Linked DNA regions of Homo sapiens. The protein of the gene in region 1 interacts with the protein of each later gene in a pairwise test. Each region holds a gene or a part of one and is shown in the gene's direction. Other genes may lie near its edges. The genes, in order: TTC3, EXOC1, TAF1, NUFIP1, TESC, SPTAN1 and MDH1.

Evidence for each region.
Region 2: the proteins of TTC3 (region 1) and EXOC1 interact in a two-hybrid assay, tested with the Homo sapiens proteins (one large-scale study listed by IntAct).
Region 3: the proteins of TTC3 (region 1) and TAF1 interact in a two-hybrid assay, tested with the Homo sapiens proteins (one large-scale study listed by BioGRID and IntAct).
Region 4: the proteins of TTC3 (region 1) and NUFIP1 interact in a two-hybrid assay, tested with the Homo sapiens proteins (one large-scale study listed by BioGRID and IntAct).
Region 5: the proteins of TTC3 (region 1) and TESC interact in a two-hybrid assay, tested with the Homo sapiens proteins (one large-scale study listed by IntAct).
Region 6: the proteins of TTC3 (region 1) and SPTAN1 interact in a two-hybrid assay, tested with the Homo sapiens proteins (one large-scale study listed by BioGRID and IntAct).
Region 7: the proteins of TTC3 (region 1) and MDH1 interact in a two-hybrid assay, tested with the Homo sapiens proteins (one large-scale study listed by BioGRID and IntAct).

The regions. Positions count from the first base shown.
Region 1 is NC_000021.9:37,079,380-37,083,388, forward strand, and holds part of TTC3 (E3 ubiquitin-protein ligase TTC3), read left to right. Parts: intron 1-3,567; exon of another isoform or gene 3,568-4,009. UniProt on the Homo sapiens protein: E3 ubiquitin-protein ligase which catalyzes the formation of 'Lys-48'-polyubiquitin chains. Mediates the ubiquitination and subsequent degradation of phosphorylated Akt (AKT1, AKT2 and AKT3) in the nucleus.
Region 2 is NC_000004.12:55,901,694-55,905,672, forward strand, and holds the end of EXOC1 (exocyst complex component 1), read left to right. Parts: intron 1-650; coding exon 651-845; intron 846-2,649; coding exon 2,650-2,802; 3' UTR 2,803-3,393; downstream 3,394-3,979.
Region 3 is NC_000023.11:71,383,161-71,387,169, forward strand, and holds part of TAF1 (transcription initiation factor TFIID subunit 1), read left to right. Parts: coding exon 1-4; intron 5-801; coding exon 802-975; intron 976-1,784; coding exon 1,785-1,889; intron 1,890-4,009. UniProt on the Homo sapiens protein: The TFIID basal transcription factor complex plays a major role in the initiation of RNA polymerase II (Pol II)-dependent transcription.
Region 4 is NC_000013.11:44,979,256-44,983,264, reverse strand, and holds part of NUFIP1 (FMR1-interacting protein NUFIP1), read left to right. Parts: intron 1-1,110; coding exon 1,111-1,193; intron 1,194-2,444; coding exon 2,445-2,543; intron 2,544-3,312; coding exon 3,313-3,375; intron 3,376-3,998; coding exon 3,999-4,009. UniProt on the Homo sapiens protein: Binds RNA.
Region 5 is NC_000012.12:117,092,735-117,096,743, reverse strand, and holds part of TESC (calcineurin B homologous protein 3), read left to right. Parts: intron 1-3,055; exon of another isoform or gene 3,056-3,070; coding exon of another isoform or gene 3,071-3,092; intron 3,093-4,009. UniProt on the Homo sapiens protein: Functions as an integral cofactor in cell pH regulation by controlling plasma membrane-type Na(+)/H(+) exchange activity. Promotes the maturation, transport, cell surface stability and exchange activity of SLC9A1/NHE1 at the plasma membrane.
Region 6 is NC_000009.12:128,628,578-128,632,586, forward strand, and holds part of SPTAN1 (spectrin alpha chain, non-erythrocytic 1), read left to right. Parts: intron 1-547; coding exon of another isoform or gene 548-610; intron 611-1,743; coding exon 1,744-1,798; intron 1,799-3,549; coding exon 3,550-3,746; intron 3,747-3,853; coding exon 3,854-3,907; intron 3,908-3,994; coding exon 3,995-4,009. UniProt on the Homo sapiens protein: Fodrin, which seems to be involved in secretion, interacts with calmodulin in a calcium-dependent manner and is thus candidate for the calcium-dependent movement of the cytoskeleton at the membrane.
Region 7 is NC_000002.12:63,602,111-63,606,119, forward strand, and holds part of MDH1 (malate dehydrogenase, cytoplasmic), read left to right. Parts: intron 1-2,585; coding exon 2,586-2,762; intron 2,763-3,169; coding exon 3,170-3,283; intron 3,284-3,828; coding exon 3,829-3,918; intron 3,919-4,009. UniProt on the Homo sapiens protein: Catalyzes the reduction of aromatic alpha-keto acids in the presence of NADH. Plays essential roles in the malate-aspartate shuttle and the tricarboxylic acid cycle, important in mitochondrial NADH supply for oxidative phosphorylation.

The DNA.
Region 1 (4,009 bases):
TGGATCTAATGTTTTCTTCTTGGAGGTTTAGTAGTAATTAGCAGTTGAACAGTCATAGGACTGTTCAGGTATTCTATTTCTTTTAGTCAGTTTTGGTAAGTTTTAGAAATTTGTCCTTTCATCAAGTTTATGGTATGGTTTTTTTTTTTTTTTTTTTTTTTTTTTTTTTTTTAAGATAGAGTCTCCCTCTGTTGCCCAGGCTGGAGTAGTGCAGTGGTGCCATCTCATTGCAACCTCTGCCTCCTGAGTTCAAGCGATTCTCCTGCCTCAGCCTCCTGAGTAGCTGGGATTACAGCCGTGCGCCACCATGCTTGGCTGATTTTTTTGTATTTTTAGTAGAGACGGAGTTTCACCATGTTGGCCAGGCTCTTCACAAACTCCTGACCTCAAGTGGTCTGCCCACCTCGGCCTCCCAAAGTGCTAGGATTACAGGTGTGAGCCACCGCTCGTGGTATGGCATTAATTCTCTTTTTAATCTCTGTTTTATTTGTATATGTGTTCCCCTTTTCTCATGTTGAATATTATTTATGTCTGACTTCTCTTTCTTGATCAGTCTTAGTAAAAGTTTGTCCATTTTTAAAATCTTGGCAAAGGATTAACTTTTGGCCTAATTTGTTCTATTATTTGTTTTTTATTTCATTGATCTTTTTTCTCTTTTATTATTTCATTTTACTTTCAGTTTATTATTTTACTATTTTTTTCACTTAAATTACACACTTAATATTAATTTTCAACCATTCCGATTTCCTAGTATAAGCATGCAAGACTGTAAACTTCCTCAAAGTTCATTTTTGCTTATCTAACATAGTTTAATTTATAGTGTTTTCATTAACTTTCAAATCTAAGTATTTTTACAATTTCTATTTTGATTTTTTCTTTGACTTATGAGTTACTTAGACATTTTTAAATTTTCAAATGTGTCTATATTGTTTTCCTTTAATTATCGATTTCTTACTTGTGTTGCCAGAGAATATTTTATCTTTTTAGCATTTTTTTTTTTTTGCCCTTGCTTTATGGCCTTGTACATAGTGAATTATTAGAACTGTTCTGTGTACACTTGTGAAGAGTATATATTCTGTAATTGTTAAGTGTCTATTAGGTAAAGCTTGTTATTTGTGTTGTTCTGATAGTCTTTATCCTTATTAATTTTGGTTTATCCTATCATTAACTGAGAGAAGTGTGTTGCAATATTCCACCATTACTAGTTTCTAACAGATTTCCTGTAGTTCTAACAATTTTTGTTCTTCTGTATTTTGAGACTTTTATTAGCTACATGCAAGCTTAACATTTTTTTCCTAGTGGCTCGAACCTTTACTATATTGTGATCTTCTCTAAGTTTGCTTCTTTGTCTTAGAGGCTTTTTGTCTGATCCCGTCTTTCTTTTGGTGCTAATTTACCTGGAATATTCTTTTCTTTCATTTTACTTTGATTTTTTTTAGTGTCCTTACATTTTAAGTGTCTCTTATAAGGGACATACTACTGGATTTTTCTTTTAATCTCACCAGACAACTTCTGTCTTTTAATTGGTTATGTTCCAGGTGTCTTGGTTGGTGTTTGACTCAGTTTTAGATATTAAAAAAAATCTAAAAGTATTTTTATTTTACCTTTGTTCTTGACAGATCATTTTGATGGATGTACAATTGTAGGTTGGTGTTTCTTTTCTGTCAGTAGGGTAGGAATACTATTCTGCTGTTGCTTATACAAAGTGTGCTGCCAGTTTTATTTATGCCTTTTTTTTTTTTTTTTTTTTTTTTTTTGAGGTGGAGTCTTGCTGTGTTGTTAGGCTGGAGTGCAGTGGCGCCATCTTGGCTCATTGCAACCTCCGCCTCCTGGATTCAAGCGATTCTCCTGCCTCAGACTCCCAAGTAGCTGGGACTACAGGCACCTGCCACCATGCCTGGCCAATTTTTGTATTTTTAGTAGAGATGGGGTTTCACCATGTTGGCCAGGATGGTCTTGATCTCTTGACCTCGTGATCTGTCCGCCTCAGCCTCCCAAAGTGCTGGGATTACAGGCGTGAGCCACTGCACCCAGCCTATTTATGCGTTTTTTGAAGAAAATATCATTTTTCTTTTAGTTACATTGGATTTTCTGTCTTTTGTGTTACATCATTTCACTTCTAAGTCTAGATAGAGATTATATTTATCCTATTTTGGATGCATGTGTTTCATGATTCTGCATTTTGTCTTTCATGAGATCTAGAAGTTTCTGAGCCCTGTATTCTTTAAATATTATGTCTCATTAGTCTCTTCTCTCCTGCTGGAACTTTAACTGGATATATATATACACTAAACTGTTTCCAGATCACTTATTCTTTATCTTTCATATTTTTTATCTCTTTGTTTCTCTTTACCAGAATTTACAGTGCTGGATAATTTCATAAGGCATATATTTTAGTTCACCAATTTTCTCTTCAACTGTGCCTAATATCCTCTGTAACCCATCCTGTCTCTTTTTTTTCTTTTAACAATTGCATTTTTAATTACTTTTTTTTTTTTTTTTTAAGATGGAGTCTCTCTCTGTCGCCCAGGCTGGAGTGCAGAGGCGCGATCTCAGCTCACTGCAAGCTCCGCCTCCCGGGTTCACGCCATTCTCCTGCCTCAGCCTCCCGAGTAGCTGGGACTACAGGCGCCCGCCACCACGCCCGGCTAATTTTTTTGTATTTTTAGTAGAGACGGGGTTTCACCGTGTTACCCAGGATGGTCTCGATCTCCTGACCTCGTCATCTGCTCACGTTGGCCTCCCAGAGTGCTGGGATTACAGGCATGAGCCACCATGCCCGGCCGCATTTTTAATTTCTAAAAGTTCTGCCTGGTTCTTTTTTGATATGTCCAGTCATTCTTCATGTTCTCATGTTATATGCTGATTTTTGTGACTCTATAGCTATTCTGTAGACTATATCAGACATTCCCAATGTCTGATATCCTTGAGGAGGGGGATGTCTAAATTTATTGCTTTTTTGTTTTTTTTTCTGTTGTCTCTCCTCAATGTAGCTGTCACCTCATGTGTTTGGTGATCATTGATTATGAACTTCTGTTTGATCTTTGTGGTGATCTTGAGAGTCTAATTTGAGGATGCTTGCTTTCTGAAAGCATTTCTATCAGCTTTGTCTGGGAGCCAGAAAGTTTAGCTGGCATCACTTTTGAGTTCCTACATTTTGCTTCTGGCCCAGGGCTCAGTGTCCTGATCCTATTACTGCTCTTGGCACCACTACTTGTAGCACTAAACTGTAGCCAGGTTTAATTTCTAGCTCAAGGTTTGTTGCTTTTGCGTGGAGAGGGTGCCTTCACATGTTCCCCTATTTCTATGAGCTCAGCAAAAACATCCAAAAAGTGTTTTTTTTTTTAATCTAGGATATACCTTTTTCCTCCCAACAGTACATTCCCCCAGAGTGTATAGTTGACCATAACTGATGGGATCAGAAGCTCTTTATTTTAATATTTAATTTTAGTAGTATATTTTTGTTTGATTGTATTATAAAAAATTTTATGGTACCAAGCAAGCTTTCTTGGTGATACCAACATTTCCATTAAAACTAGTTTACATCTAAGTTAAGATTTGAGTTATCCTAAAGAAAAGTATTAAGTAAATAGCAGTACAGATGGCAAATGGATTGCACAATATATCCTCTGGATCCATAGTGACCCTGCAGAGATAAACCTGTGATGGTCAAACAATGTGAAAACTGCTGTCAGAGACATGGGCAGGGTGCTCTTGTTTACAGAGAAGAGGTGCAAAAATCAACTTGATGGTAGTGGGAAGATCAGGAAATGCTTCCTGAAATTGAGTATTAAGAACTAATAGACATTAGGTGGTTGCAGAATAAGTTTTGTTTAGGAAGGACAAGCAGTTGGGTATGACTGGCTTCTAGGTTGTGTGTTGTGGAGTGACTGGGGATAAAAGCAGGAGCAAGATCACAAAAGGTCTTCTATGCTTATATTAGGGAAGTTGGACTTTATTCTCAAGCTGAAGGGAAGCTGTTGCATGGTTTTAAGCAGTAAAGTGATAT
Region 2 (3,979 bases), on another chromosome or scaffold:
CTATTGTTATAAATTGTCATAATGCTTATGATGGTATAGTGAAGTAGCAACCTCATACACTGTTGACAGAAATATAAATTGGTTGAGCTTTCCTAGGAAGCAGTTTGTATATATACTGAAGAATCTTTCAAATACTTAAAGTTATGCTCTTCAACAGAGTAATTATAGTCCTGGAAATTTAATCAGTAAGATGGGTAAATACTTATATACAAAAAAAATTTATGACAAATATATTTATAGTAGATTTTCTAAAGTCTCACTAGATTTGCCAAGTCCAAAAAAAGAAGGGGGAGTGGGATGTTAAATATCTAGTACTAGAGGAATGAATAATAATTGTGGTTCAGTCATTGTGTGAAATATTATGCAGCCATTAAAATTTATATTTAGGAAAAAACAATATTAAATGTAAAGTGGGACATGAAATTTTAATCTCCTGTATGTATTCACACATCAAAAGATTACAAGGAACTCTACAATATTAACAATGTTCATCTCAGAAGTATGTTAATAAGTGATTGTTATTTTATTGTTTATACTTTCACACACTGATTTTTGCATGGTGATTATACACTACTTTGTAATCAGATTTTTTTAATGTAAATAATAATAAATGCAGGTCTTAGCCATTGTTTCTTTTCATTTCCTTGAAGCATTTCTTTGAAGGTGTTGAAGCTCGCGTGGCACAGGGCATAAGGGAGGAGGAAGTAAGTTACCAACTTGCATTTAACAAACAAGAACTTCGTAAAGTCATTAAGGAGTACCCTGGAAAGGAAGTAAAAAAAGGTCTAGATAACCTCTACAAGAAAGTTGATAAACATTTATGTGAAGAAGAGAACTTACTTCAGGTATGCTTACTTCTTTTGACCATCTGACTTAAAGATCCTTACATATATTGCTTTTCTTTAAATAATTTTCTAGAAATGCTACAGATCTAGAGCAGGAGGAGAGTTCCATTAGAGTACAGACCAGATTAATGAATTGTGAGGAAGAAAGGAATACTGTTTATATAAGCATATATGGCTATTTCTGCTTATTTCGTATTTCTGCTATATTATGGTGAGGCATTAAGTTTGTTTTTCTTTGGTTGGTTGGTTGGTTGGTTGGTTGGTTGGTTGAGTGGTTGGAATTAGAGATGGGTTCATAATCTGGCTCCAGATTAAGCTGTGTGACTTTGGGAAGTTACTTAACCTCTCTGAGCCTTAGTTTCCTTATTTGATAAGTGGAAACGATACATCTCTTGTACAGTAGCCACTGTATTGGGCAACATAGCAAGACCTTGTCTCTACTAAAAATTAAAAAAATTAGCTGGGCATGGTGGCACGTGCCTGTAGTCCCAGCTACTCGGGAAGCTGAGGCAGGAGGATCACTTGAGCCCAGGAGATTGAGGCTCCAGTGAACTATGATCCTACCACTGCACTCCAGCCTACGCAACAGAGTGAGGCCGTGTCTCAATTAAAAAAAAAAAAAAAAAGAAAGAAAGAAAGAAAAAGAAAGAAAGAGAAAGAAAGAAAATCAGCTTAGAGAGGTGGAGTAATAGGACCAAGCTCTCTTAACTAATGGGTAGTGGAGCCAGATTTAAAGTCCAAATTAGGCCATTATTCTTTATAAACCATATTGAAAGGCCCAGATATGAGTGAGAGTAATTCTGATTTCAACATCATGGAAGACTTCCTGAGGGATATTGCATTGTTTGTTTTAACCTCTGAAAGTCAGATGTACTTGAACAGGCAAAGTGGGGATGGAGGGAGTAGCATTCTAGAAAGAAATAATATGAGCTAAACGATGAAAAGTAAAAAGCATAACACTGCTTAGGGAATAGCGATTGGTCTTAAGTTGGCAGGAATTTAGGATTTATGAGATTTAGGATTTACAAGAAAAAATCTTGGAAGAATACATTCCCTCAGCTGTCAAATAGGGAAGATGATCATAATACCCACCCTCACCAGGTCATCATGAGACTTAATACTATAATATATTCATAAAGTGCTTTGTACTGTGCTGATAAAGAGTAAGCTTCAATTAATGTAATCTATTTAAGCCATTATGTCAATGTGTGTATCACATTGTGTCTTGGTAATTGTCTACATATTAGCCTCCACTGTTAGATTATAAATCACATGATTGCAGATAATGGGTCTGAGTCATTTTGCTGTCCTCCAAGGCATCAAGCAAGGTTTTGCATCAACAATTTTAGATAAAGAAAACTTTAAATGTTATAGGAAATGAAATTAAAGCATTACATTTTATGTAATCACTAGTCTTAGTTCTATACATAATTGTGCATATCCACATCTGTGTTGCATATTGGAGTATATAAGATAATAGCTAAAATGTCATGAGTGCTTACTTGTGTCAAACGCAGTTTGAAGCACTTTATGTACATTTCTTATTTAATTCTCACAGCATTATGAGGAAGGTCTTATTATTATCTTGGTTTATAGATGAGGAACTTGAGGCATAGAGCAGTGATGTCATGTACTGAAGGTTACAAATCTTGTAGGTAAAAGTGACTGGGATTCTGGTTTCAGAATGCATGTTCCTAGCTACTATACTACCCAAATTCTTAGAATATGCCTTGGCATTATTTCTGCATACTAGATTACATATTATTTCCATTCATAGCCTAATGACTTTTTTTTTTAATAATAGGTGGTGTGGCACTCCATGCAAGATGAATTTATACGCCAGTATAAGCACTTTGAAGGTTTGATAGCTCGCTGTTATCCTGGATCTGGTGTTACAATGGAATTCACTATTCAGGACATTCTGGATTATTGTTCCAGCATTGCACAGTCCCACTAAACCTTGTGAAAGAAGAAAAGATAACTGAATGAAGCATTTGAGTATAACAGACACTATACCAAAATACCAAGCAACTGTTTTGAGAACCCAGACTTAAAATTTTATGTATTATTAAATGTTAGATAAATGGGTAGTACCATACTACAAATATTTAAATGCAAAATTACCAACCTATATAGCAGTTTTATTTGCCCTATAGGTTGCATACTAACTTAAGCATTCATGTCACCATAAAATGCCTTTAGCATTTCTCAATGACTGGATGGGAAATTTTCCTTTATTGCCTAGCTGCTTGTGTTTGAGTGGTTGTCCTATGAGCAATGCATTTGGAGTTCTTCAGCTTTCACTACTTCTCTGTTGCTTGCTAATCATGTAACTACTAAAATACTGTACAAAATTGTTTTTTCACACTAACAAATGTGTATATGGAGAAGAGGGCTCATGTGATGATCATTTGTGAACTTAGATTTTTGAGGATTATGTGACTAGTAATAAATGTGAAATAAATTTTCAAAAAAGTTGACATTTGATAATATTTTTAGGTCTATCATATGCTGTCTTCTGTATTAAAGCAAGTTCTTACAAAATCCATATACAAAAATTAATTGCAAGTTTATATACCACAAAACACTTAAAAGTTTAATAATAAGTAAAGTAAGCCGGGTGCAGTGGTTCATGCCTGTAATTCCAGCACTCTAGGAGGCCAAGGAGGGAGGACTGATTGAGGCCAGGAATTTGAGACTAGTCTGGGCGACACAGTGAGACCCTGTCTCCATAGAAGAACAATTTTTTGTGGTGGCACATGCCTATAATCTAAGCCACTTGAGAAGCTGAGGCAGGAGGATTGCCCCAGCCCAAGAGTTTGAGTGAGTTGTGATTGTGCCACTGTACTCCATCCTGGGCAACATAGCAAGATATTGTCACTTGAAAAAAAAATAAGAAAAATAATAATATTGAAGATGTTTAGTATTTAGGACTAACTCTAACAAAAGATGTGCTATATCCTGAATTGTGGCCCTACTAACATTTTATGTTGATGCCCTAACCCCCCATGTGGCTGTATTGGAGATAGGGTCTTTAAGGAGACGATTAAGTTTAAATGAGGTCAGAAGAGTAGGAACCCTGATCCAATAGACTCAATGCCCTTGTAAGAAGAGGAAGAGACAGCAGAGCTCAC
Region 3 (4,009 bases), on another chromosome or scaffold:
CAAGGTATAATTGAATTCTGGTTAGAAAACAGCTATAAAGGATATTGGGGTATAAATTAAGGGAATGTACCAGGTATTAGATTGTATTAGGGAATTGGTTATTTTCTCAGATGTGATAGAATGTTATTTTGGTTATTTAGGAGAATGTCTTTATTGTTAGGTGATGCATGTGAAAATATTTAAAGGTGAGGTGTCAGAATGACTGCATCTTTCAAAAACTGTCCAGCAAAGTCTATAGAAAGATAAAAGTTTAAAAAAATGGCGAAATATAAACAGCGACGTGGGATAATAAGTGTTCATAGTACAGTCGTCCTTCGTTATCTCTGGGAGATTGGTTCTAGGACCTTCTCTGGATACCAAAATCTTTAGATGTTCCAGTTTCTGATAAAATAGCATAATATTTGCACATAACCTATGCACATCCTCTCCTATAGTTTAAATCACCTCTAGATTACTTATAATACCTACTCCAATGTAAATGCTATGTGAATAGTTGTTAACACTGTTATTGGTTAGGGAATAATGACAAGAAAAGTCTGTACCTGTTCAGCACAGATGCACTTGTATTTTCTGAATATTTTCTATCTATGGTTGGTTGAAATCACGGATGCAGAACCCATACATGGATATGGAGGGCCGACTGTACTATTCTTTGAACTTTACAGTATGTTTGAAAATTTTGATTATGAAATTGGAAAATAGGTAAAATGTTTTTGGTGTGTTTGTCTCAGATTGAACAACGTCATTGTGTGTAGTAGTGTCCTGTCAGGAGCTAGATGGTATTTTCTTTGTTCTGGACAGATGAGAGAACAAGAGAGGCAAGCTTCAGGTGGTGGAGAGATGTTTTTTATGCGCACACCTCAGGACCTCACAGGCAAAGATGGTGATCTTATTCTTGCAGAATATAGTGAGGAAAATGGACCCTTAATGATGCAGGTTGGCATGGCAACCAAGATAAAGAACTATTATAAACGGGTGAGTCTCTGCTCAGAAAATTTTTTTCCCATACATAATTCTGCTTATGCTTCCATAAACTTTTATGTACAAACTTTTTGTTATTAACATAGCTGTAGTGAGACAAACTGCAAACTTACATACAAATTTTTTATTATTAACGTAGCTGTAGTTAGAGATCTACTGGTAATCTGTGAACATATACCATAAATTTCTTGGGAGAAAGGAGTGGTACCTTTTTTTGTAGTTATAACATGTTGAGCATCTCAAATCTCAAAATTCGAAATCAAAATCCAAAACTTTTTTTTTTTTTTTGAGACTGAATCTTGCTCTTTTGCCAGGCTGGAGTGCAGTGGCATGATCTCCACTCACTGCAACCTCCACCTCCTGGGTTTGGGCAATTCTTCTGCCTCAGCCTCCTGAGTAGCTGGACTACAGGCGTGTGCCACCACACCCAGCTAATTTTTGTATTTTTAGTAGAGACAGGGTTTCATCATGTTGGCCAGGATGGTCTCGATCTCTTAACCTCGTGATCTGCCCGTCTTGGCCTTCCAAAGTGCTGAGATACAGGTATGAGCCACCATGCCCGGCCAATCCTAAACTTTTTGAGCACTATGATGATACTCAAATGCTCATTGGAGCATTTTGGATTTCCAGATTTGGGATGCCCAACTGGTAAGTATAATGCAACTATTCCAAAATCCGAAACACTTCTGGTCACAAGCATTTTGGATGAGGGATACTCAACCTGTATTAGTAAAGTGCTATGGTCATATTGTGTAGGATTATTGATATATTCTAAATAACTGGGTCTTCTGTGTTCCTTATAGAAACCTGGAAAAGATCCTGGAGCACCAGATTGTAAATATGGGGAAACTGTTTACTGCCATACATCTCCTTTCCTGGGTTCTCTCCATCCTGGCCAATTGCTGCAAGTGAGGAATTCTTTCCTGTTTTTACTGTTAACTAAGGAAATTGATAAATGAGGAACCAGTCAGCTCAGAAAGAACTATTATAATTCTAGTTGATTGAGATGCTTTAATTTTAAGTACAAAGAAAATAAGTATAATCCAAAAATGTTTTAAAGAAATCTTTTTCTTAAAACTGGCTGTGAATTGTGTTATTCTCAGGCTAAATGTAAAATAGGTTTTTAAAAATACACACTGGTAAGCTCAGTAACATCTGGGAAGCATAAGGAAGTCAACCTAGGATGAATTTACTATAAATTTACTATAATTTATGAATATTTAATTTTTGTGTATAAAATTGATAACATTTTGATCACATTAGCTGTGGTTATTGTGAATATTGAACCACACCTGAACTGTGCCATCTACAGTCCCCAGCCATAGTGAAATGCTTTTTTTTTCCCTCCTTTGTTCTAATGGGTGTAAAGAGGCTCTCTTATAACAGCTTTTATATATTCAAGGGGGGAAGTATGATGGTCCACAAATGATGTGGAAAATCTCTAGCACTCTCCCATCTTGTTTTTTTTCTCCATTTCATTTCTCTTGGCAATCTTAACCATTTGTCCTACTCTTATACCTAGTTTATTCTACTGTTGTTGTTGTTTATTCTCCTAAAGCATCTGCAAAGCTCAGTTTTTTTCTTTATCCTTTACATTCATAGTCTATTGCTAACCGGATGTTTAGTATCATCTTTGTATTGTTCTTCTCCTTTCCCTGGAACTTTCTGTTGAGGTTTTCTACCAATTCAGCCTCTTCTTTTGTGGCTACTTTTGTAGTCTCTTAAAGATCTTTTTCTGGCCGAGCGTGGTGGCTCACGCCTGTTAATCCCAGCACTTTGGGAGGCCGAGGTGGGCGAATCACCTGAGGTCAGGAGTTCGAGACCAGTCTGACCAACATGGAGAAACTCTGCCTCTACTCAAAATACAAAATTAGCCGGGCATGGTGGCACATGCCTGTAATCCCAGCTACTCGGGAGGCCGAGGCAGGAGAATCACTTGAACCCGGGAGGTGGAGGTTGCAGTGAGCCGAGATCGCGCCATTGCACTCCAGCCTGGGCAACAAGAGCGAAACTCCATCTCAAAAAAAAAAAAAAAAGATCTTTTTCTGTATTCTTCTGTAATTCTTTTTCTGCCTATATTTCACATGTAGAATTTTCTTTCCACACTCAGTGATGGTCTTCCCTCTTTCTGTCTACTCTTCTGATTTTCGGGGAAGGCTTTCCTTAGACTCAGGCTTCTTGTGACAGTTTATCCCTATCTTGCCTCTACTTAAACTGGCTCAAATGTTTCTGTTCAGCTGTCCTCTGTCCTACTGTCTTGTGTTTTCCTTTTGTTTTTTCCCAGCCTATTCTGTCTAGCACTCTTTCTACCTCATTGGTTGTTTTATGATTTATTTGTTTGGAGATAGGGTCTGGCTCTGTGACCCAGGCTGGAGTGCAGTGGCACGATCTTGGCTCACTGCAACTTCTGCCTCCTGGGCTCAAGCCATCCTCCTACCTCAGCCTCCCAAGTAGATGGGACAATAGGCGCACGCCACCACATCCAGCTAATTATTGTATTTTCTGTAGAGATGGGGTTTTGTCATGTTGCCGAGGCTGGTCTTGAACTCCTGAGGTAAAGTGATCTACCTGCCTCGGCTTCCCAAAGTGCTGAGATTACAGGCATGAGTCACTGTGCCCGGCGTTGTTTTGTTTTTTAATTAGTTTAATAATTTATTCAACAAATGTTGCTCTCACACGTTGTGTGTTGGGCTACACTGGGGTCTAGGGTAGTAGTATAGTACTTGGTACATTATGAAGTGATTTTCATATGTAATCTTCATAGCAGTCCTGTGAGGTATAGGCATTTTTAAGTATCTCTGTTTTGTAGATGAGGAAAACTAAACTTAGACATGTTAAATAGCTTAAATAGACATGTTAAATCATAGAGGTAATGGCAGAGCTAGCATCATCTGAATTCACATCCTGTATTTTCTCCCCTACTGACTCTGAAAGATAGTGGATGAAAAATTGTTTAGTCACATTTGATAATCTATATTTTAATTTATTTGTATTACTGGATAGACCTTAGATGGCGTAATTAAGATGG
Region 4 (4,009 bases), on another chromosome or scaffold:
AGCAGAGGTTGCAGTGAGCCAAGATTGTGCCACTGCACTCTAGGCTGGCCAACAAGAGCGAAACTGCATCTCCCCCGCCAAAAAAAATAAAATAAAATAAGAGACAGGGTCAGCTGGGCATGGTGGCTCACGCTTGCAGTCCCAGGACTTTGGAGGCTGAGGCAGGCAGATCGGTTGAGCCCAGGAGTGTGAGATCAGCCTGGGCAACATAGTGAGACCCCATCTCTATACAAAGAATAATTTTTTTAAAAGAGACAGAGACAGGGTCTTGTGCTGTTGCCTAGACTGGAGTGTAGTGGCATGATCATAGCTTACTGCAGCCTCAAACTCCTGAACTCAAGTGATCCTCCCACCTCAGCCTCCACAGTAGCTAGGACTACAGGTGCATGCCATCATGCCAAGCTAATTTTTAAATTTTTTTGTAGAGATGGGGTCATGTGAGGTTACCCAGGCTGGTCATGAACTCCTGGCCTTGAGTAGTTCTCCTGTCTCAGCCTCCCAAAGTGCTAGGATTATAGGCATGAGCCACCACGCCTGGTCCATATGCAAATTTTTGAGCCAGGTTGTGACAGGATTGGAGAATTTTTTTTTTTTTTTGGTGTCAGTATGTAAGGTTTGTTGGAAGAGGGGGCTTATGAACTGGAAGACAATATAGGAGTAATCTGGTGGAAGATCAGAATTTCTGACTTGGGGCATGGTAATAAGAATGGAAAAGTACAGTGGGATTTGAGAGGAGATATATTTCACAAGGTTCTGTTTTCCTGGTGCGAAATTGATGCTGAAGGAGCAGTGTTGGGGATTTTACTGGTTACATTTCTAATATTTGAAATAACCGAAGGAATTTCATCAGGTTAGGTTGTCCATTTCTGCACTTTGACGCCTAAAGTTTCTGTGGACATATAATCACACCAGTCTTTCTTTGTTTGAAAAATAGTCATTTGGTAGACTAATCTTAATCTTTGTTATTTTGTTTGAACTAGTATTCTTCCTAGAAGGGTAGTTTACTAGTGTTTTTACTGAAATATTTGTAACATGCTGTAGTAGATAAAATTTAATTATAATTTAAATAATTACATTGTTGCAAACATTTATGGATCTTTTTTTTTTTAGTTAAAAATTCTTATTATCCACGAAAGTATGATGCAAAATTCACAGACTTCAGCTTACCTCCCAGTAGAAAACAGAAAAAAAAGGTATTTGAAAGATGTTCTTGAATTTGACCCCTTGGTCCCTATGTTACTGTTTCATATCTTGCATTTCTGTCATAACTGTCTTCAGTGTTTTGCTTCCATTATTGACACAGTGGAGCCTTGCTATAAAAAGGAATTTTATGGTTAAACATGAATATAGCAAATTGGGATTCAAAAATAATACATAACTAAATTTTTGTTTCTTTTCTGTGGTTTTAGAAATAGATATATATTTGATACTTTTATTTTACCTTATTTTTTTTTAGATGGAGTTTCACTCTGTCGCCCAGGCTGGAGTGCAGTGGTACGATCTTGGCTCACTGCAACCTCCGCCTCCTGGGTTCAAGCAATTCTCCTGCCTCAGCCTCCCAGAGTAGCTGGGACTGCAGGTGCGCACCACCACACCTGGCTAATTTTTGTAGTTTTAGTAGAGTTGGGGTTTTACTGTGTTGGCCAGGCTGGTCTCGAACTCCTGACCTCAAGTGACCCGCCCACCTCCGCCTCCCAAAGTGCTGGGATTAAGGCGTGAGCCACCATGCCTGGCCATATAGTTGATACTTGAACAACGCAACAGTTAGAGGTGCAGTCAGAAGTTTGTGTGTAACTTTTGACTCCTCTAAAACTTAACTACTAATGGTCTACTATTGACTGGAAGTCTTACCAATAACATAAATAGTCGGTTAGTATAGAAATGAAATGGTGTCCACATATATTTTATACCTTCTTGACATACTTTTTTTTTTGATATTTCTAAGGCTATGTGGTTTATCTGTGAGTTTTTCCAAATTGTCACAAATCTCCAAAAAAATTTTCCAATATATTTACTGAAAAAAATCCTTTTATAAGTGGACCCTTGCAGTTCAAACCTGTGTTGTTCAAGGGTCAGCTGTAGTTATTTTTTTCTAAAAGATGAGCTGCTGTTTTTATTCTATTTATTTTCAGATCATTTCAACATATTCTGTACTGAGTCTTAATTAGATAACCAATTTGCAATCTGCTCATAATTTATATTAGCACTATTTGGATTAAAAAAGTTTAAAATTATGCCTGGGTTTCACTAATATATTTGTTAAAAACAAAATGAAAGAAAGAAATAGAATAATCTCTTCATTGGAAATATACTCACAAGCTTCTCCCACACGAAAGGGTTATTGGAAACATCAAAGTGTGTATTACTAGAATGATAGTTATGTTTTTATTATTGATTACAGATTTTTCACCAAAAGCCTAATTCCTCTCTGTTTTTGTTTGCAGAAAAGAAAGGAACCAGTTTTTCACTTTTTTTGTGATACCTGTGATCGTGGTTTTAAAAATCAAGAAAAGTATGACAAACACATGTCTGAACATACAAAAGTAGGTTTTCTTAGTTGTCCTGAAACTGATGTAGCAATTGTGCTTCTTCTATCTGTATATTTGGTAGAAATGCCAAGCTTGTTTTCCTTTAAAGTTTATAGTTTCTGTAGAGATATAGTTTGACAACTTGACAGATAGGGGCAGTGACCCTGGGGTTTGAAAGTGGGGATCCCGCTGCTTCAGGGACGAGGTAAGATGGTAGCAAAGAAGGGAGCTCTGACAGCTTTTTGTATGTGTGTACCTCTACTGCTTGGGAAGAGGCTGTCCTCTCCTCTAGTTACCTTGTGCATCTTAATGAGTTCTTTCCCCTTTAAGTCTGCCCTTGACCATTAAACCATACTGTGTAATGTGGCTGTGCCTATCACCCTCAAAGGCTGGTCCACACCTTGTCAGGTACTAGCTAGAAAACTTTAACCAAAATGTTTAAAAGGTTTAAAAGGAAGCCTTTGGTTTTGAAAGGTTCTTTTTCTGTTTTTGGGAATGCCCCTCAACTTTAGGAATTAAGAGCATTTCACAGGTTTATTGATGTATGCCTTTGCTCAAATGGAGAAGTAAATAAGATATATTATTGTGCCACATACTCTGAGAGTGTCATTCCTTTGCCTAAAGGCAGCCCTGTTTTGGAGTCATTTTTGTATGCAGAGATAATACTATACAGATGGGATAACTATGTAATACAGCCAGAATATGTCTGTGTATGTATAGTGGGGTAAATTTAACATGGAAAACATTTGTTAAATAGTTTTTTTTTTCTTTTAAAAACTCATAGTGCCCTGAATTAGATTGCTCTTTTACTGCACACGAGAAGATTGTCCAGTTCCATTGGAGAAATGTAAGTTCTGTTTTTTTATCCTATTTTTAAATACATGCTCTTTTTATTGATCTGTTATCTTCACAACTGTTTATTTATATACCTAATAATAGGTAACACTAATGGAGTACTTTGTAAGGATTTTGACATCATTTATTCAACTTTTTCCTCACAAACAACTATGGTTGTTTATATTGGCCCCATTTAAAATATTTTAAAAAATGAATTGCCCAAGGCCTGAGAATTGATTCTTGGACCTCAGTTTCTTGACTCCAAATTGTATACTGCTTTACTACACCATGCTGCTACAGATTGTCACGTCTACTCATATCTTTAGTGGCCTCTCTAGGTTTTGATTGGTAAGTCATTCATTTGGGTGTTTAATGTCATTTGAGAGAATGGGTGGCATATCTACTTTGTAATCAAAATTATGTTACCCCTTTTCCCTCTATTAATAGCACTAATTAAATACATGATAGATTCTTCTTCCTTTAAAGGAAAAGTTATAACACAAATAGATACAACCTGCTTACTTGGTTTTAAAATTGTGTCCAACATAAGTTTACTTGTAGAAACAAAGTCTCCAAGTTAGTCAAAAGCATATGATATTGCCTCCTGATGTTCAGCAGGCTTTTTCCCCCTAGATGCATGCTCC
Region 5 (4,009 bases), on another chromosome or scaffold:
TTGCCAGGTACCTTGGGCAAGTCACTTATGCTCTCTGAGCCTCAGTTTTATCTACTATAAAATGGGCATAGTCATAGTACCTCCCTTGAAGTTGTTGGGAAGGATTGAGTTAATATACATGAAGTAGTTAGACCAAACACATGTACATGGTTTGTTATTGACCATGCTTTAAACACTCTTGTATGTCCTGGTCGCTCCGAGCCATAGCTGAGAGTTGAGTCTTGGTCCCACCTCTCTGAGCTACATGACCTTGGGCAAGTCATCTTACTTCTCTGAGCCTCAGTACCCCCACCTGGATCCTGAAGTCATTGTGTGGATTTGATAAGGTTACGTGCGAGACGATCGGCTTGGCATGGGAACGTCAGCTCCCAGAGACCCAGTGGGTCAGGCAGGGCCCTTCCTCCAAGGCCATTCCCTTGGGAATCTTCCCTGAGAAAAAGGGAGAAAAGCCTCAGGGTAAGGTGGCCAGAGGACAGACTGAGCCCACAGGGCTGCTGACTCCCCCGCCTCCCTGAGGACCAAGATGACCCCTGACTTTCTGGGGAGGAATCAGCTTGGTCCCTTTCTGAGAACACCATCCAGAAAGGACCAGAAGGTCAGGCTGAGGCTGGTGATAATGAACATAATTCCCCAAGCACCTGCTGAGCATCAGGCTCCACGCTGGTGCTCTCTGCATAACACTCTTTATAGTAATGATCCCCCAGGAAGGCAGTGTTAGGGCCATTTTACAGGTGAGGAAACTGAGGCTTAGAGAGGTAAACCAGCTTGCCTGCAGTCCCACAGCTGCTAAGTGGAGGAGTTGGAGATCATGGGATCCCCAAGCCTACTTTCTTTTTTTACAGTTTTTTTTAATTTTTAGTTTTTGAGGCAGGGTCTTGCTCTCTCACCCAGGCTGGAGTGCAAGGGGCATGATCAAGCTCACTGCAACCTCGAACTCCTGGGCTCCAGCGATCCTCCCACCTCAGCCTTCCCAGTAGCTATGACTGCAGGTGTGCGCCACCACACCAGCTAATTTTAAATTTTTCTGTAGAGACAGGGGTCTTGCCATGTTGATCAGACTAGTCTCAAATTCCTGGCCTCAAAGTGATCCTCCCACTTCAGCCTCTTGAAAGCGCTGGAGTTACAGGCATGAGCCACCATGCCTGGCCCCAAGACTGCTTTCTTACTGCCAGCATGCTTTCACTGTGTGTAGCTGCCACTTGAATTTCTAGGAACCAAGAAGGGATAGGAAAAGACTCCCGTATTTTTTCTCACCTTCAGGCCTTTGCACAAAAGCTGTTCCTCTGCCTGGAGCACTGTTTTCATTTGATGTGTACAATCAGGTGTTTACGTACGGGAGCCTTTCTCTGTCTCCACCCAGGGTAAGGTCTAGGCCGGGCGTGGTGGCTCACGCCTATAATCCCAGCACTTTGGGAGGCCAAGGCAGGTAGATCATGAGGTCAGGAGTTCAAGACCAGCCTGGCCAAGATAGTGAAACCCTGTCTCTACTAAAACTACAAAAATTAGCTGTGCGCGGTGGCAGACGCCTGTAATCCCAGCTACTCGGGAGGCTGAGGTCGGAGAATCGCTTGAACCTGGGTGGCGGAGGTTGCGGTGAGCTGAGAGCATGCCACTGTACTCCAGCCTGGGCGACAGAGTGAACTCCATCTCACAAAAAACAAAAACAAGAAAAAACAAACTCAAACCTTTCCTCTTAACCTTGTCTCTCTCTCTTTTTTTTTTTTTTTGAGATGAATTTTCACTCTTGTTGCCCAAGCTGGAGTGCAGTGGCGCGATCTCAGCTCACTGAAACCTCTGCCTCCTGGGTTCAAGCAATTCTCCTGCCTCAGCCTCGTGAGTAGCTGGGATTACAGGTGCCCGCCACCATGCTCGGCTAATTTTTGTATTTTTAGTAGAGACAGGGTTTCACCATGTCGGCCAGGCTGGTCTGAAACTCCTGACCTTAAGTGATCCGCCTGCCTCTGCCTCCCAAAGTGCTGGGATTACAGGTGTGAGCCACCGCGCACAGCGTTAACCCTGTCTCTTTATGAAACGAATGCTCATTATTGTTCAGGGGTTGGCTTACCTGCTGCTCCCATCCAGAAAGCCATCTCTCCATCCGACCTTTAAGGGTTAAACACCCATCCTCAGCGCTCCTGGAGCCCGCAATAGCAGGCATCACACCATGTTATACTTGTCAACTCTGTCACCTGCCACCCCTTCGAAACTTGGAGCTCCCTAGAGCAGAAAGAACGTGTCTTGTTCACCTTTGTATGCACTTGGTGGTTCAGTGAGAGCATAAGAGGCTCACGTTAAAGGGGCACAGTCCCTGGGGACTTTAAAACTCAAGGTGTATTGTTCAGGAACAGGCAGCCACTGGAAAACCCAGTGCCACCCTCACCAGCTGTCCTCGGCTGCCAACCCTCCCAGCATCTCCCCAGCCCCACCAAAAATATGCCTGAGCAGCAGCTTGCCACACAGGGCATCATCAGGTCTGCGTGCCCACCTTCCTTCTCCCTGCCTGTTAGAGTCTCATTGATTGATTTAAACCGGAAACGAGTATTCCCAGGAATCTTTTCTGAGCCAAGAAGGCTCACATCTAGATTGTTAAGATTCATATGAAAAGCCCGAGCGAAGGCGTCCCGGGGGTGTGATTGAGCTCACCTTCCCCACGCACCCGTGGTGACAGCAGCCAAGTGGTGTCTGGTGTGTGGACCGAGGTACAAAGTGGGACCTGACGGAGAGAAGGGCTTCTTGGGAATTATTCACCTGAGTCAGTTGTCCTTCACCACCTTGAGCTGGCCCCACTTCCTGTCCCCCCCATCCGTGTCTGCTCCTGGAGTTGGAAAGGAAATAATAAGACAGAGGATTCTGGGAAAGGTGGAGGGTCTGTTTTTTCCTTCAGGCTCCAAAACAGCTCTTCAGGCATGTCTATGTTGATGCCAAGAAGCTGCCAGAAGGAAAAGGAAAAAAAAAAAAAAAATCTCCAGACCTAGAGTTCAGACCTCATGATGGTAAGAGCTAATGTTTCTCGGGCGCGTGGCATCTGCCACACGTTCAGCTGAGCCAGGCAGCGTATCCGCAGTAGCTGATGGAATCCTCCCAGGAACACGGTTGGTTTCCCATTTTACAGATGCAGACATTGAGGCTCAAGAGAGGAGGTGCCTGCCCAAGGCCACAGGCATCATAATGAGAAGTAGAGTCGCAGGCTGGTGCGGTGGCTCATGCTTGTAATCCCAGCACTTTGGGAGGCCAAGGCAGGGGGTTCGCCTGAGCCCAGGAGTTGGTGCCACTGCACTCCAGCTTGGGTGACAGTGCGAGACTGTCTCCAAAGAAAAAAAGAGAGTCGGATTCCATTCCTGGTCTAATCTCATTTGGAGAAGGAGCTAGAGATGGCAGGGAGGACTGGCGTAGCCAAGCGTGGCTGGTGGGGGTGGCGCTGGTTTCTCCACTGCGTTCTCGCCCCTGGGTAATACTTCTTGGTTCTAAAGTCTTTAAGTGGCCTCAGACGGTGGCCTCGGCTCATTCACCAATTGCCATATTCTGCTACCAGGGTGGACCAGATGCGGTCCCTGCCCTCCAGAAGCTCAGGGGTTCCAGGGGGACAGGGGAGCACCCCAACAACTGTAGCATAGCGGGAGGAAGGGTCTGATGGGCCAGGGTGGACCAGCCAGCTCCACACTGTTCTGTCGTCCGCCAAAGCTTGGTAAGCTGAACAGCCAACCAGCCAGTCCCCCGTGCCTTTTCTCTTCCTCTGGGCTAGGTTGTGGCTTTTCCCCTGGCATCTTCAGGGAGTCCATGAACCCCATGAAATAGGATGTGGAATTGTCTGAGTGCCTCTGGGGAGGGCCCTCTGCCCTTGTTAGGGTCTCTGAACAGTGAAGTGTTTTCCATTGTATGGAAATCATGCCTCAGTAAGAAAATGATTCAAACAATTACTTTTATTGATTGTTTAAAATTAATTTGTTTTTGAGATGGCCCTGCTCTGTTGCCCAGGCTGGAGCATAGTGGTGCAATCACAGTTCACTGC
Region 6 (4,009 bases), on another chromosome or scaffold:
ACTTCTCTGCTTGGCCTGGGGCCTCTGCCTGGCCGGGTCACCTTTGTAATCTGCCAAGCCTGCTGTGAAAGCCAGGGCTGCTGGGACTGGAGTGGCTTGGCCTGCACTCCTGAGGCTCTGCACCCAGGCACATCAAGCCTGTATAGGCGGCCAGGGGAGAAATAGACCCATCCAGCCGGGCCACACATTCTGATGGCAGAGCAGCTGGGGACGTAGGGATCGCAGTTTCCGGCCTGTGCCCGTAGGACACCCTGGCCACCTGACTCCCCTCCCTGCCCCATGCCTGTGTCTGCTGGTCTTGCTCTTGTCTCCGTGAGGTGCCACGCTCCCCTCACCTTATGGCTCCTCCCAAGCCCTGCCCATCTTGCCCATTCCTAGTGTGAGCTGCCTGGGGTGAACCACTGGGCCTGCTGCCTCCAGGTACCCGCCGGGCACCAGGTTGCCCTTGCCTGCGCCCTGCCAGCTTGGGCTTTGTGTGTGTCTGTTGCAGTGTGCTCTTGCCTCCCCTCCCTTTGGTGTATTCATTTGGTTTCTTTTCTTTGAATAGCATAGCATATCGTCGGGTCATTCGTGTCTATCAGTATGAAGTTGGGGATGATCTGTCTGGAAGGTTTTTCTCCTTATTTCTCTTCTTACCTCACTGTGGCTTTACTGATGCACTCTTGACATCCCCAGGCGGCTCCACCCTGACTAACCTGCCGCCCTCGGCTGCTTGGGAAGGAGGGGTCTGTCCTCCCACTGCACCGGCACCCAGCCTCCTGCCCCCAGGTCCTGGGGGGCATTTTCCCCGGGGGGACATGGCGTGACTGTGAGTCTGACCTGCTGGGGTAGGAGGAAGCCTGGTGCCTTGCCTTGCTAGAGCACTTTGAACCTGGGGAGATTGCAGAGCTAACCCTGGCTCGCCGGGTTTTAAAAGGGTAGGTTGGGGTGAATGTGGGTACAGGGGAGCCTGGGCTAAAACCCCACCAAGGCCACACGCACCGTGTGATTCGTCCCTGCACGTAACCCTAACTCGTTTGTTGTCTTTGTTTACTGGTAGCCTCTGTGACCTGGCACTGTGTTCTCTTGGGAAGGAGGCTCCCCAGAGCCCATCTGCTCTCAGAACTTGGTCCTAGAGAGGAGGCTCCCTCCCTGGCTGTGTCTAGAGGATGGAACCGGGATCTGGGGTTTAGTCACAGCCATCTCTCTCCTTTTGGCACAGTTGGTCGTGATCTCCCAGCACTCCACTTGTGTCCTTTGTCTGCAGGGTCGTGCTCTCATTCCCCCTAGAATGGGGCTCCCTCCCTCAGGAACCTTGCCGGGACACTCCAGGGTTTCTGTGGGGAGGCTGTCAGGTTCTCAGCCTCCCCTCTGCCCTGAGGTCTCCTGTCTGTCAGGTGTCAGGGTGTGCCATCCCCCACATGGCTGCAGAGAGGATGCTCAGACAGGCCTGCAGCCACCCTGCACCCATGGGGGAATTTAAACTCCATTCCTGAGTCATCCTGGCCTTGGGAGCAAGACGAGTGGGCTCAGCCCTGGCCCACACCAAGGCAGCAGCTTCCCATCTCTAAAACGGGAGAAATGCTCCCTGCCATCCCTCGATCCCTGGGGCCCATTAGGTAAAGATGGCCAGTTGCAGTTAGGTTTGGTTTCCTTAAAAGGAATGTGAGGTTGCCAGGCATTGCTCTCTCTGAGAGAAGGTTCATTCTGAGCTCTCGGCCAGCTGGGAGCAGGCCCCTTTCCTCACTGTCCTTCCACGTTTAGGTCCTGTATGGTGGAAGAGTCGGGGACCCTCGAATCCCAGCTTGAAGCTACCAAAGTAAGTGCCCGTGGGGCTCTGGCCCAGCAGAGACCCTTCACCCAGCCACCCCCCAGGGTACCCCTTCCCTTCCTGGCTTAAAGTCAGGAACCAGATGTGCTATTATTGTACCCTTTTCCCTTGGCCTAAAGCAGTCTAGGGCTCTTCACTATCTCTCTCTCTTTTCTTTCTTTCTTCATGGAATCTCTCTCTCGCCCAGGCTGGAGTGCAGTGGTGCGATATTGGCTCACTGCAACCTCCACCTCCCAGGTCAAGCAATTCTCCTGCCTCAGCCTCCCAAATAGCTGTACTACAGATGTGTGCCACCACATTTGGCTAATTTTTGTTTATTTTTAATTATCTTTTGAGATGGAGTTTCACTCTTGTTGCCCAGGCTGGAGTGCAATGGACGTGGTCTTGGCTCACTGCAACCTCCACCTCCTGGGTTCAAGTGATCCTCCTGCCTCAACCTCCCAAGTAGCTGGGATTACAGGCGCCCACCACCACACCTGGGTAATTTTTGTATTTTTAGTAGAGACAGGGTTTCACCATGTTGGCCAGGCAGGCTGGTCTCGAACTCCTGACCTCGGCTGATCTGCCCGCCTCGGCCTCCCAAAGTGCTGGGATTACAAGCGTGAGCCACCACATCTGGCCTAGTTTTTATATTTTTAGTAGAGACAGTGTTTTGCCTTGTTGGCCAGGCCGGTCTGGAACTCCTGATCTCCAGTGATCTGTCCACCTCAGCCTCCCAAAGTGCTGGGATTACAAGCATGAGCCACCACTCCCGGCCGAGGGCTCTTCACTTTAAAGAAAGTCTTTGGGGCTGGGTGTGGTGACTTACACCTGTAATCCCAGCACTTTGGGAAGCCGAGGCGGGTGGATTGCTTGAAGTCAGGAGTTCGAGACCAGCCTGGCCAACATGGGGAAACCCCATCTCTACTAAAAATACAAAATATTAGCTGGGTGTGGTGGCAGGCACCTGTAATCCCAGCTACTCAGGAGGCTGAGGCAGGAGAATCACTTGATTCTGGGATGCGGAGGTTGCAGTGACCCGAGATCAGGCCATTGCACTCCAGCCTGGGTGACAAGAGCAAAACTCCCTCTGAAAAAAATTACTTGGGCATGGTGGCCTACACCTGCTCAAAGTCCAGCATGGGCAATATATAGCAAGACCTTGTCTTAAAAATAAGGCTGGGTGCAGTGGCTCATGCCTATAATCCCAGAACTTTGGGAGGCCAAGACAGGCAGATCACTTGAGCCTAGGAATTCAAGACCAGCCTGGTCAATGCAGTGAAACATCGCCTCTACTAAAAATACAAAAATTAGGCAGGTGTGGTGATGGGCACCTGTTAGTTCCAGCTACTCAGGAGATTGAGGCAGGAGAATCACTTGAACCCGGGAGGTTGCAGTGAGCGTGATTGCGCCACTGCACTCTAGCCTAGGCGACAGTGAGACTCCATCTCAAAAAAATTTATAAAAATCTTTGGCCACTGCTTCCTGGAGTCCTCGCCGTACTTGTCCTTGGCGTGCACTGCCCTCTGGCAGGTCTACCAGCTGCTTTGGAACCCTCACATTGAAAGTCTCTCCCTCTATTGAGGTGGTTGGGATTTCTTCAGCTTCACCCCATCCCACTATTCCTATTCTAGAATGTTCTTGTTTTACGAGGTCTCAGGCCAGGCCTGGAGCAGGAACCAGAGGGCAGTAAGTGGCTCCTGGGCTGGTGACTGAGCTGAGGGCCCCCGTCTGAGCATCTGTGCTCCCCACCCCTGCAGCGCAAGCACCAGGAAATCCGAGCCATGAGAAGTCAGCTCAAAAAGATCGAGGACCTGGGGGCCGCCATGGAGGAGGCCCTCATCCTGGACAACAAGTACACGGAGCACAGCACCGTGGGCCTCGCCCAGCAGTGGGACCAGCTGGACCAGCTGGGCATGCGCATGCAGCACAACCTGGAGCAGCAGATCCAGGCCAGGTACCCGGGAGGGCTGTGGGCCAGGCTCAGCCCAGAGCAGGGGGAGGAAAAGACACAGTCACCTGCTGTGTGGAGGGTCTGTTCCCTAATTTCTGTTTTTCTTCCAGGAACACAACAGGTGTGACTGAGGAGGCCCTCAAAGAATTCAGCATGATGTTTAAGTGAGTTCAGCCTTACTCGCCCTGGCTGGGTGGGGGGTGTTCGGCAGCAGGGCTGCCTGCTGAGCCGCCCTCGGCTTTGTGCTGCAGACACTTTGACAAGGA
Region 7 (4,009 bases), on another chromosome or scaffold:
ATTAGATCGGTCAAAAGTGATTTACAATATCACAAACATAAATTTTTAAGTAAACTTTTAACTATTTTAGGATTTAAGAAAGCAGTCTCAACTAGTTTAAGAGTGGGAGTGAAAGTAAAGACAGTTTACTTCTTACTTAACTGAATAAATTAGTATGAAGACCAGTCGAGTCATTGCAGACATTTTAGGTAATGGCCTTTTTTTTCATCTTTATCCTTTTCGGTTGGTTGGTTGGGGTTTTTTTTTTTTTTTTTTTTTGCTTTTTATTTTGAAATAATTTTAGACTCAAAAGTCGCAAAAAAATAGTACAGAGAAGGCCCATGTACCCATCACCCATTGATGGTACCTTACATAACTACAGAGTATTATCAAAACCAGGAAGTTGATGAACTACACAATACTATTAACTAGACTTACTGAAGTTTCACCAGTTTTATATTCACTTATTTTTTTCTGTGTCTTTATGAATGATTCTATGACATTTAATTACAAGTGTAGATTCCTGTAACTGCCCCCATAGTCAAGGTACAGAATTTCTTCATCACTCACAAAAGAACTCCTTCATACTCTCCCTTATGGTCACACCACCCTCTGTCCCTGACATCATTTTTCTGCACTCCACCTCTATAATTTTGTCATTTTGAGAATTTACAAAAGTGGAATCATGCAGTAAGGAACCTTTTGAGACTGGCTCTTTTTCACTCAGTTTAATGCCTTTAAGATCCATCCAGGTTGTTGTTTGTTTCTTTTTGTTGTTTTTCCACTTACCCCTTTTATTTATTCCATTGCCTATGTAAGACATAATACAGTTTATTTAACCGTTCTTTTTTTTTTTTTTTTTTTTTTTTTTTTTTTTTTTTTTTTTTTGAGACAGAGTCTCGCCCTGTCGCCTAGGCTGGAGTGCAATGGCACGATCTCGGCTCACTGCAACCTCCGCCTCCCAGGTTCAAGAGATTCTCCTGCCTCAGCCTCCTGAGTAGCTGGGATTACAGGCACACGCTGCCACACCCAGCTAATTTTTGTATTTTTAGTAGAGACGGGGCTTCACCGTGTTGGCCATGATGGTCTCCATCTCGACCTCCTGATCCTCCCACCTCGGCCTCCCAAAGTGCTGGGATTATAGGTGTGAGCCACCGCGCCTGGCATATTTAACCATTCTTGAACGACATTTGAGTTGTTTCAGTTTGGAGCTGTTATTACCCTTATTTTAAAATTTTCCTTAAAATATCAAAGTGTATTCCTTTTCTTACATGGTAAATACTCAAATGCTTTATTTATGTGTGCTAAAGCTACAGACTCTGGCACAACTAGTTTCTTCTCCCATTCTTTTTGGGACACAGAGGAAGGAAGAATTGCCCACAATGTCACCAAAACAGATCAGCTTCTTAAAATATTTTTCCACATTCCCTTCTGGTTCATCATAAATTCTGTTGTCTAGTTAGGAACAAATTATACATATACCTGATCATAATTTATTTTCTGCACATAAACTTATCAGACAAATAACAAGCAGGCTGATTTTATTTAAATCTACCAAGACATTTCTTTTTTTTTTTTTTTTTTTTTTGAGACAGTCTCGCTGCATCGCCCATGCTGGAGTGCAGTGGTGCGATCTTGGCTCACCGCAACCTCCGCCTCCCAGGTTCAAGCGATTCTCCTGCCTCAGCCTCCCAAGTAGCTGGGATTACAGACATGTGCCACCAAGCCCGGCTAACTTTGTATTTTTAGTAGAGACAGGGTTTCTCCATGTTGGTCAGGCTGGTCTCGAACTGTCAACCTCAGGTGATCTGCCCGCCTTGGCCTCCCAAAGTGCTGGGATTACAGGCGTAAGCCACCATGCCCAGCCCAAGACATAACTTTCTAACCTTTTTTGTGGCTACTGTACTACATGTGATTGCAAGGCATTGCAGGACCCTAAAGTGCTTTCTGGAGTTATAGCTAGAGATTGTTACATATGTTATAATTTTAGAGTGTATATATGTGTGTACACACACACACATACACATATATAAAACCTCTTTCCTTCAGTTTCCTGATATATAAAATGAGGACAGTCATATCTTGGTAATTTGAGTCCTATCCAACTCTAAAATTTCATATTTAGGGTTATTTGAAAATTAATTTCTATATGGTATATAATAAAAATTTTACCTAAATATAAAGTGCCTAAATACCTGATTACTCAGAAGCACTGAGAAGACATCTCCAAGTAAACATTAACAGTGAAACAAAAGATCACATTTACATATTCAAGAAATAGTAAATTGATAAATAATAGTAACGATTAATGTTTTATGTTTGATACACCTACTGTACTAATAAGTTAACCACAAACTATGGGATGCTTCATACCCTTAAACATTCTACTCCATAAGGTTTCAAGTCCACAGTTGTTACCACTGTTAAGCTGTTGTAGGAAATTGCCAAGCAATAAATTTACATTTTTTACAAGTCAATATAACTCTTGTGTTCTCTTGAAATTTCAGAAGCTTTTTATCTTTATTTAAGGGCATTTGTCAAAACAGGTCCCAATTGGAAATAAAAACCATTTGTCTCAGTAATGTATTTGTTTTCAATTTAACTAGATTGCTCTTAAACTTGGTGTGACTGCTAATGATGTAAAGAATGTCATTATCTGGGGAAACCATTCCTCGACTCAGTATCCAGATGTCAACCATGCCAAGGTGAAATTGCAAGGAAAGGAAGTTGGTGTTTATGAAGCTCTGAAAGATGACAGCTGGCTCAAGGGAGAATTTGTCACGGTAAGAAAAATCTGTGAGCCTTCTTAACACTGAGCGTAAAGAACTCTTGAGAGACTCTTAGGACAGAAAACCTTAAAGAGGGCAGGTCTTTCACAGTTGCTCTGATGACTGCATACTTTCGGGATCATAGTAAGCCAGTCATGATCTAGTGTGATCTGATGTGACAGCAGTTGAGATTTATACCAAGATCCATGTCTTTGTCTGACCTATGATAAACTTTGTATGGAGATACATAGTTTCCTTTTTCCAGAAGGATTGGTAAGGCTGACATTGGGTTGTTGCATGATTTTGGAGGGGAAACATTAAGCTCTGGTCATAGCTTTTCACCCCAAGGTCGACTTGGAATTAATGAAAACTTTGCTATCATGACCAAGTAATACTGCTGCCTTCACCTGCCCCCTTCCCAGACTGTGCAGCAGCGTGGCGCTGCTGTCATCAAGGCTCGAAAACTATCCAGTGCCATGTCTGCTGCAAAAGCCATCTGTGACCACGTCAGGGACATCTGGTTTGGAACCCCAGAGGTAAGGATTTAGTGATTTGCACAGGTCACTCTATTTTATTTTTGTTGCCTGATGATATAATATAAAAAGAATATAGCCTTAGCAGTCAGTCAGGTTAGGTTCATTTCTCAGCTCAGCTGCCTATTAACAAGTAAACTTCGGGGTTTGTTAGCCTTGACCTTTCTGAGCTGTTTTGTCATCTTTTACATGACATTACTATTATACACAGGGTTGTGAGGGTTAAAGGAGATTGCACATGGAAAACACCTGGCACAATGCCTGATACATAGTAGGGGTGAATTTTTTTCTTCTATGCCACAGCTTCCTCATCTGTAAAATGAGGATTAGGTTTCCCTGGCCTACTTCACATATGATATGGAAGCGTGGAATGAAATAATATCCATGAAAGTTACCTTGTCACCAGTACCTGGTGCTGATGATAGTTCCTTACACAGTAATGATGTTATGAACATAGTAAGAAAGGGTCACCTGGTTTAATTTTATTAGTTCATGTGTCAGTTGTGTAAACTAATCATCATGAGTATGTGAAACATTGTTATTTTCAGGGAGAGTTTGTGTCCATGGGTGTTATCTCTGATGGCAACTCCTATGGTGTTCCTGATGATCTGCTCTACTCATTCCCTGTTGTAATCAAGGTAAGGTATTTTGGAGCTATTTCCCTTCTTTGAGGAAGTAGTTATATGTTTCTCTTAAGAATGGTATTATTGGCCAGGCACAGTGGCTCAC